Regions from separate parts of the Homo sapiens genome. Here region 2 is linked to region 1. Evidence: fine-mapped expression QTL. A gene starts in region 1. The other region holds a variant in brackets. All regions are shown on one strand. Distances are from middle to middle.

The links. PIP is the estimated chance that this variant, and not a neighbour inherited with it, causes the effect. A credible set is the group of variants that fine-mapping cannot tell apart.
Region 2: its variant is the best candidate, but not a certain one, in a credible set for the expression of TTC34 in tibial artery (GTEx, PIP 0.63).

The regions. Positions count from the first base shown.
Region 1 is chr1:2,799,436-2,803,811 of GRCh38, forward strand. TTC34 (tetratricopeptide repeat domain 34) reads right to left here and starts at 2,258. Exons shown (of 9, transcript NM_001242672.3): 1 at 2,142-2,258; 2 at 609-1,433. The coding sequence starts at 1,392.
Region 2 is chr1:2,833,016-2,837,391 of GRCh38, forward strand. No RefSeq gene overlaps it. Among named protein-coding and RNA genes, the nearest start is that of TTC34, 34 kb to the left of the region's middle. The variant C/T (reference allele first, on the strand shown) is at 1,784.

The DNA.
Region 1 (4,376 bases):
GGGAGGCTGAAGCAAGAGAATCTCTTGAACCCAGTGGGTGGAGGTTGCGGTGAGCCGAGATCGCCCCATTGCACTCCAGCCTGGGCAACAAGAATGAAACTCCATCTCAAAAAAAAAAATGCAGCTCAGAGTACCTCACTCCACAGCTCAGCCTCACAGACTGAGGGTAACATCCAAGGGCCTTGGGAGGCCAGGAGGATCTAGCCCCACAGCTGCCATCTTCAGTCTCCCATTCGTTTTCCCCTTCCCTCCGACAGTCGCCCTGGCCCCCTCAGTGGCAGGGGGAGCCCAAGCTCTTGCTCCCCTAAGGACTTGGCACATTTGCTTCTGCTGCCTGGAACCCTCACTCTCAGCCTAAATGATTCCTCTCCTGAGAAGCTTTCCCTGATCACCGGCTGGAGCAGTACCTTGCCCATCCCATTTCTTAAAGCATGCATTTTGTTTGTGTCTTTGGGTGCTCCAAAGGGGCAGGGCCTGACTTTCTTGTCACTGAGGCACCCCAGCCCCAGCACAGCCTCACCCCATCATGGCAGGACATAACCATGTGGGGAGGGAGTGGCGGGGGCAGCTTTCACCCTGGCTCTGCAGGGGCCATGCCGTCCTCCTACCTTGGGGTTCGCTGCCGGTGGGATGGGCCTCGAGGGCCCGGCTGCATGCTGCCAGGCAGTCCTCAAACCTGCCGCTGTGGAGCAGAGCTTCAGGTGACAGGGTGTCACTCCGGGTGCCCCTGGGGTCCAGAGCCGCCAGGAGTCGCTGGCCACCGGTCTCCTGCTGGCCGGCACTGTGCCCAGCCTCCGGGTGCCCCGAGAGGTAGTCCTGGAGGGCACTGAGCAGCGCGGGGAGGTGGGGCCGCTGGTGGGTGCGAATGAAAGCTACCGTCCGGTCGGCGCTGGAGGCGAAGGCCTGGAGATAGGCGGCCACACCATCCGCTGCCTGCACCCCGGACAGGACCCAGGCGAGGGCGCGGGTCAGCCGCAGCTCCAGGACTTGCTGTGCATGAGAGTCCAGCAGGGCGCTGCAGCGTTGCACCACTTCTTCGTGACGCCCGCGGGCCAGCAGACCTGCCAGCAGGTGCAGGATGGCGGCGGGGTGGTCCGGGCAGAGGGCGCCGAGGAAGGCAGAGGCCAGCGACCCTGTCAGGGAGACCACTGCCATGCCGTCCCAGTGGATGGCGGGGATCTGGCTGTCCCCGCGGCACCAGGACTCCAGGGTGGCCACCACCGCCGCCCCCCGAGCCTGGGCCAGGGCAGTGCGCACACTCTGCAGGGCTGAGGGGGCGTGGCAGCTGAATGCAGCCAGGTAGAAGGCGGTGGCCAGGGGCAGCTCCCCCAGCGCCAGATGCTGCTCCCCCTCCCGGCAGAGGCAGGCCACGAGCTCCTGGGCTGACATCATGTCTGGGACCCCGACGGGCCCATGTCTGGTCCTCAGAGTACCTGGGGGTGGGGGAGCATGGTGAGTCCACAGAGGGCGGCCAGTTCTCCTGCCCTGTGGCCACCCGTGCCCAGCCTCAAGCCACCTCCACCCCTTCCCATTGACCCCACGGTCAGTGCAGACCCCACTGGGTGAAAACTGGGGGGATCCTGGGCTGGTGGGGTGGGGCCTACCAGGTGTCCCAGGCCAACTTCCAGCCCACTGTTCACCTCTGGGGCCTCAGTTTCGTGCCTTGCAGAATGGGACAGTGGCCTCCCCCAGCTCAGTTCCCTCTAAGAACATCTGACCCCTGAGTGTCCATGTCGGGAGGGTTACGGTGGCCCGAGGTGTCAGGGCCCAGCAATAGGAACCCCGGACCCACCCTCTGCCCCTCCCAACCCTGAGCCCCTCAGGAAGGCACACCCCCCGTCAGTCCAGGCAGCCCTCTCAGTGGGACGCAGGACCACACCCCTGCCCACCCTCTCACACCTGGGCCATTCGAGGGGGGCGCCGAGAGCACCTGCCAGGCCCTTGGGTCGGGGGAGCCACCCCAGCCCATGGGTGGGGGGGTTCAGTTTTGAGGTTGAGGTTCCAGGGACAGCCCCTGGTACTCCCCTATTCCCTGTCCCCAAGCTACTTGACCTGACGAACTAGCTCCGCACAGCCCTTTCTTCCCTCATCAAACAGGCAGCCCCCAGCATCCGCTCTCAGACACACACAGACACACTCACACTCGTCTGCAGCTTGGAGGCTGAGCCGGCTGTGCCCTGGGGACCCAGATTCCCTCGTGGGTGGTGGGGGACAGAGGGATGTGGCTGGCTGGAGGGCCCAGGCCTGGGTGGGGCTCCTATGACCGCCCCGTGTGGGTTGGGGAAGGCACAGCCTGCGGTTTCCCGGGAGAGTGTCAACACCCTTGGGTCTCCTGGCTGTCCTGCAGCGCCCCGCTGTGGCCAGAGGCTACCAGGCCGAGGTCCCACCCACACTGCCCCAGCCAGGCTCCAATGGGCTGCCTCAGAGCAGAGAACCCTGAGTTCATGGGGGTGTTGGGGGAGAAGGGGCCTGTGGGGTACAGCCCCCCATAGCCGGGGCCAGCCTCCACCCTGCCTGCTCTGCCAGGGTGCCCCCAGCCTCCTCTCCACATAGATGAGGAGGGCGCTTCCTGGAGGCAGGTGGGGGCCGCCTGCCCACCCAGTGCACTCAGGCTCTGGGTTTGTCCCCCAGAACTCCGCCTGGGCTGCTATGCGGGCCCCTCACCGCCCAGCCTCACTCCTCTTCTGGCAGGGCCCTGTCACCCGGTCCTGGGGCACCTCCCCACAGGCTGTTCCCTGTGCCGGCAGCTGGGACTGGACCTTCCGTGCACAGCCAGCCCATTTCCCTTGGCCGTCCTCCCTCTGAGAGGCTTAGGCAGCCCTGTCCTGCCTGCACCAGCTGAGCCAGCTGTGCCCTGGGGAGGGCAGGGCACATTAGCCGAGGGCACACCCCTCCCCCATCACAGGGTTGAGGCCCAGAGGCAGCTCTGGGAGCCATGACCTGAGCCTACTGCCCAGGGACCCTGATTGTTGCTGAGGAAGGGGTGGCAGCATAGGGACTATTTTAGGAAACATCACCTTCAGCCCGTGGCCACCGTCAGCCCATGCCGCAGGAGCAGAAAGACTGAGTGGGGTGGCTGGAGGCAGGCTCAGGTCCCTGAAGCTGAGACCCCACCACCGGCAGCTGCCCTGGAGGGCAGGCATGAGTGGGGGGAATGGGGGTGGTGCGTCCCTGAGAGAGGTCCCTCCCAATTCAGGATGCCAAGGTGCCCGGACACCAGGCCAATGCTGGCTCCTCTGTGGGGCTCAGGGAAGCAGGGTTGGGGGTGCCCTTTGGGGGAGGAGATCTTGGGAGTGGGGGGTGGCATCCCTGATCCCCTCGATGTCTGGGTCTCCTGAGACATGCCCCGCAGGCCCTTTGGGGAGGGTGTGGAGCCCCTGCAGCGTGGGCAGAGCAGTCAGGGTCAGTCTGAGGGTGCAGGGCAGGGGGGTCAGCAGGGCTGGGGCTGCCTGGCCCAGTTCTTCAGCTCCATGACATTCACCAGGGCCCAAGGCCTGTGCGGGTAATGCAGTGGGGGCAGTTTATTAAGAGATTGCCCATTACTCGGTGTTGATTACTTTCATTTTAATTGCCCTAATTAGGCGAGAGCTGTAATGGAGTGGGGCTGTCACCAGGGCTGTAGAAGAGCCCGGGGCACAGAGGTGGCAGGTCTGCGCGACAGTTGCCATCACAGCAGTGCCGATGGGCCCCCTGCGTCTCTGCCCTGTGCACAGTGCCCTGCCCGGGGCCCACAGGCACTGGCCAGATGAGCCTGGAAGTCTCGGAGGGTCCCGAGCTATGATCACAGCCCCTGCCTGAGAGCAGCACACCTGGATGCAGGTAATCCCAGGGCCGCCTCCACGCCACCTCCCAATCCGCACTCTCGTCTCTGATTCTGCCACAGACAAAAGTGGGCGGCTGAGCCGGACAGGGAGGCCGAGGCCGGTGCCTGGTAGTCTCAGGGTCTCGTGTTCGGGTTTGTGCTGCTTTAGTTTATGAGTCAAAAGGATTTCCAACATTTCCAACTTGAGGCTAGCGGGGGGCGGGGGATACTGCTCATTTGCCCTCTGCACACTTTCCCATTCAAGACCATTAGCGCACTGACAGCGTAGGGAGCTGGCTCATCTGACGCTTCAGGGGGAAACAGGGTTTGAGGGTGATGGAAGCATTCAGCCCTGACTGGACCCACAACAACTACTTGTCCTTACAGACCCCTGCGAAGAGCCCAGGAGCTGCTTCCGACGCCCTGGGAGCCGCTCCTCCTGCTCTGAGCCTGCTTGGCTGCCCCCGTTTATGTGGTCGGACCTGGCTGGGTGGAGGGAGGGGCAGGACTCCGAGTCAGCACCCAGCAACGACCCCCTCACTCCTTGCACTCAGACTTGCAGAAATGAAAGGGC
Region 2 (4,376 bases), 34 kb after region 1:
CTGGGGGCCACGGATGTACGCTCCAGGCTGGGGGCTCAGGCAAGGCCCCAGGGGGCCCCACAGAGCTCCCTGCATAAAATCAGGGGCCAGTGAAGGGGGTCGGCCTCTGTCCCAGCCATATACCCAGAGGTGCAGGATGCAGAGTCTGTAGCCCCCTCTCTGGGGTCTTGGTGCCCCTGCCTCACCTACACTTCCTCTCCTGGTGGCCCCAGACCCCTGGGGTGGGAGCTGACCCGGTGGGAGCACCAGACGGGGTCGCGACACTCACCCCGTGGCCACCGCCAGCAGCGTGGAGAGCTCACCAAGGGTGTGATGGATGGGGGCGCCCATCCTGCAAAGCTGTGACAAATGTGCCTCCCGCTCACAGACTCTCTTTGGAATCCGCTAATACTCCTTGAAGGTGAAGTCCCATTTTTCCCCTGCAATCACAGTATTAAACTTTAATATCTGATATTAATAAAACATACTCTCTCTAATAGAGTCACTCGAGGCCGGGAGGGAGCGCGTGCAGAGGATGGTCCCTGGTGACTGTCTGCAATGTTTTCCCATCCTGGCCAGGTGCTGGGAGTGCTGCGATGCAGAGGGTGGGGGCAGAGTCGAAGGCGGGAAGCTGCCCCACTGGGGCTTCCTGTGCCATCCTCCCCAGGCAGCACCGAGGCTCCCCTGACTCTTCACAGCGGATGTCAGACAAGCAACACAGGTGTCTCTCAGATGGCAGGCAGGGTGCTGCTGCCTCCGGGGGACCAGGTATGGCCCCTCTGCCTCCAGTGGGGAAGGAAACAGGGTCCATGTTTTGGCTGAAGCCCCTTCAGCTAAAGACCCCCCCGGAAAGAGGGAGAGCCCTATTCCCCTCCACCGTGCACCCCGGCACTGTGCTGTAGCCATGCATGCTGCCCTTTTGCAGGATTGCCAGAGAATCGTTTGCCGAGACTGGGGTGCTTTTGAGAGTGGGGGAAGCTGTTCGTTGGCTGGGACAGTGAGTGCAAACTAGGGCCATCCCGGGCATCGGGGCTTCTCCTCATCCCATGCAACTCCACCCCATGTCTCCCTCTGACTGTGCTCAGGGGGCTCCCTCTGCCAGGTCTTCCTGCCTCCCAGCCCCTCACCGCCTCCCCTAGCCCCGTGTCCATGCTACCTATTCCCTGGAACCAGCCTCGGGCTCTGCCTCGGTGTGCCTGTCCTGCTCTTCCTGCCCTCCCTGTGTGTGCCGCCCGAAGGGGACTGTGCTGTGGAGTGGTCAGAGGGCGGGTTTGATGGAGAAGCAGTGGCTCCTGCCCCAGGATCTGGGAGGTGCTGGGGTGAGCAGCGGTGCCGTGGGGCCCCCAGGAGTCTCCGTTCCCACTGCAGGTGTGTTGGGTTGTTTCCCGGCTCTCGGGGCAGGGCTGCGTCGTGTCGTATGTCGCATTCCAGGTGTAAGTCACCAATCACCCTTTCAAAGCGTACAATTCAGTGATTTGTTTTTAGTACAGTTGATCCTCATTCACGGATTCCACATTTACCAATTTGTCTATGTGATGAAAGCTATGGGTGGTCTCCAAATACATACTCCCAGTGCCCTGAGGTCACCCGGACGTGTACCCAGTGCCAAGCAAGCCTCTTTCTCGAGGTCGATTTAGTACGTGTTTCTTGCTTTGTGCGTTTCTTGTTGCTGATTTCGCTGTTGAAGTGGCCTGAGCGCTGTCCTGTGTGGCCCAGGGCTCTGGGGGGCTGACCGCACTGCTCTGGGCTGCCCCTGAGAATGCCTCCCCGGCCCCAGGGAAAATATCAGGAAAAATGCCTCACC[C/T]CAGTGGCATCTCCGCTGCTCCACCAAACAGCCTCTGAGGGGGACACCTTTCCTCCCCGCTTAGAGATAAGGACACCAGGCATGGAGGGGCCGGGCCACTTCCCAGCCATCGCTTCGAGCTAGGAGGACGGTTATTGCCATCCTTGCCTCAGCTTTTCCTGGGCAGGCCCTGGGCCGGGCCTGTGCGTGCTTCCCCCAAACGCCAGCGTGCCCAGAACAGTGGGTGCCCAGGGGAAGTTTGTGGGTACAGAGAGTGGGAGGGGGAGGTGGGAGCCAGAGGGAGTCGGGGGTCGGAGGCTGTGAGGTGTTTACAGAACAGGAGTCTGCAGTAGGGGCCCTGCCAGGAAGCCGTGGACAAAGAGGCTTTGCCGGGAGGTGCGGCCACGCAGGGATCCGGAGCTGGTACAGGCAGACCTCCTTGGAGAACTTGGACATGTCTCCACTGTTCCATGGGGTGGGCAGAGAGGAGAAAGGGGGCTCTGTGCACTGCCCTCGCCCCGAACCAGGGCCGACCTCGCCCCGGCAGCCAGTGCCGCCTGCCCCCACTGCAGTCCACCATCTAGTGCCTTCTAGAAACTTGGCCTTCTCTGGCTGAGCCAGCTGTGTGGCTGGGGCACAAGGCCCCGGGGATCCCGGGTTCTGACAGCCACGATAGTGGGTTTGGACCCAGGTTTCCAGGCCAGGTCCTGGGACACTTGCCTGGTTGGTGGGGCTGGGGCAGGGACTGTACAATGGAGGAGTGGGGGGCCAGCCCCTGGGAGTCATTAGACACTCAAGCCGGAGGCCCCCTGAACCCAGGAGGTCATCTGGAAAAACATCAAGTGGCCCCCACTGAGAATGGTCTCAATGCCCCCAGTCCCTTTAAATCTCACCTTAAGGTTTCAAGCGTCGAGCAGGGGTAATTTCCAAGTCATTGTCCAAACAAGAGTGGCTCAGTGGTGGTCCCACACCTGGCTGGGCAGCTCCCCCTCCCACACAGCGGCCACTCGGCCCCCCAGTTCTGCTACCCTATACCCTGCTAATAAAATCCATATAGTCCCTAAAACCCCCTCGGCCAGGCTGCCCCTCCTGTGCCCTTCCCCACCACTGCCAGCCGCGCCCCTCCCCTAGCACCCTGCAGCCTCGCCCCCTCTCTCTCTGCCTCAGACAGGGTCTCCTGAAGGGCAGTCATGGACCCCTGGGGGGCTCCAGCCACTTTCAAGTGGTCTTCAGGCAGCGTGGTGGTTTCAGAAGAAAAAGTGCTGGAGCAATTTGGTTCAGATATATTCACTAATGTGAAATTTAAGATTAATTATGATTTCTGCAGAAATCCCATTATGCAAATAATAACTGTTTTCTTCTGAAGGGCTGCACAGCGGCTGTGAGGCCTGCGGGGGCCGAGATCCATCTCCCTGACCCCCGGGGCATTATCTGCTAGGAAACTTTGTCAAATATAGGCAGGGGGCCCTTGAAGCTTTTGCATCTCTTTTTTTTTTTTTTTTTTTTAAAGCTCAGGAACCTCCAGATAAAATCATTTTCTTCCCCTAGAACAACTGCAAAATGCTTTTTAGGTTTAAGTGGAAGAATTTTGCTGCGAAAGGTAGAGAAGTGATTCCACTCAGAATTGCACAGAATGGGCATTCACGCTGCGTGGCTACTGAGAAGGTCCTAGAACAGACCACAAAGGTAACAGCCGAGGACAGCGCAGAGGCGCCCAGCACCGAGTCTGCGTGAGTTGGAGGATCGATGGCACCTGCCTCGGCCGGGAGGTCGAGTCTGTACTTAGAATCCACTACGGGGCAGATGTGAATTAGTGTCTGGCCCTGGGTGACTTGGGAGTGCTTCAAAACCATTTGTCCCATTGTCTCCCGAAACTGGTGATAGAAGCAAGGACATTTCATTGGCTTGACCTCTTTTGGGGAGGACCACTGTGCCGCCAGGAGGGCCCAGAGCAGGAGGGCCCGGAATGCAGCGAACACAGGGATTGATTCACAGAGACAAGAGGCCAGCACAGCCCCTCCCAGCCCACTGCAGAGGGGAAGCCATGTCTGGAAAAGCGACACAAGGCCTTGCTGTAGTCAAGAGTATTTATCTTTGAGGCCTGCTGCTCCAAAAGATGGAATATTCAGCTCTTCTCCAGATGGGGTACCCCGTGCAATCTGTGTGATGTGAGGGGATGAGGCACGAGTATTTTTTTCTGACTTTGGTCATGTTAAAAAATCTGATTTCCATAACGGCTGTGCCTGACTTGAGGGATTTGTTGAGGACATTGAATAACCTGCAGCTGATCCTGTCAGAAATAAAACAGCATTCTCTTCCGCCCTTGTTAGTGAACCTTTTAATTCAGTGGTTCTCAACCTTTTTGGCACCCAGGACGGGTTTTGCGGAAGACAATTTTTCTATGGATCTGGAGGGTGGGGGATGGTTTGGGGATGATTCAAGGGCATTGCATTTATTTGGACTTTATTTCTATGATGATTACATTGTAATATCTAATGAAATAATTCTACAACTCACTGTCATGTAGAATCAGTGGGAGCCCTGAGCTTGTTTTCCTGCAACTAGATGGTCCCGTCTGTGGGTAAGGGGAGACAGTGATAGAGCATCAGGCTTT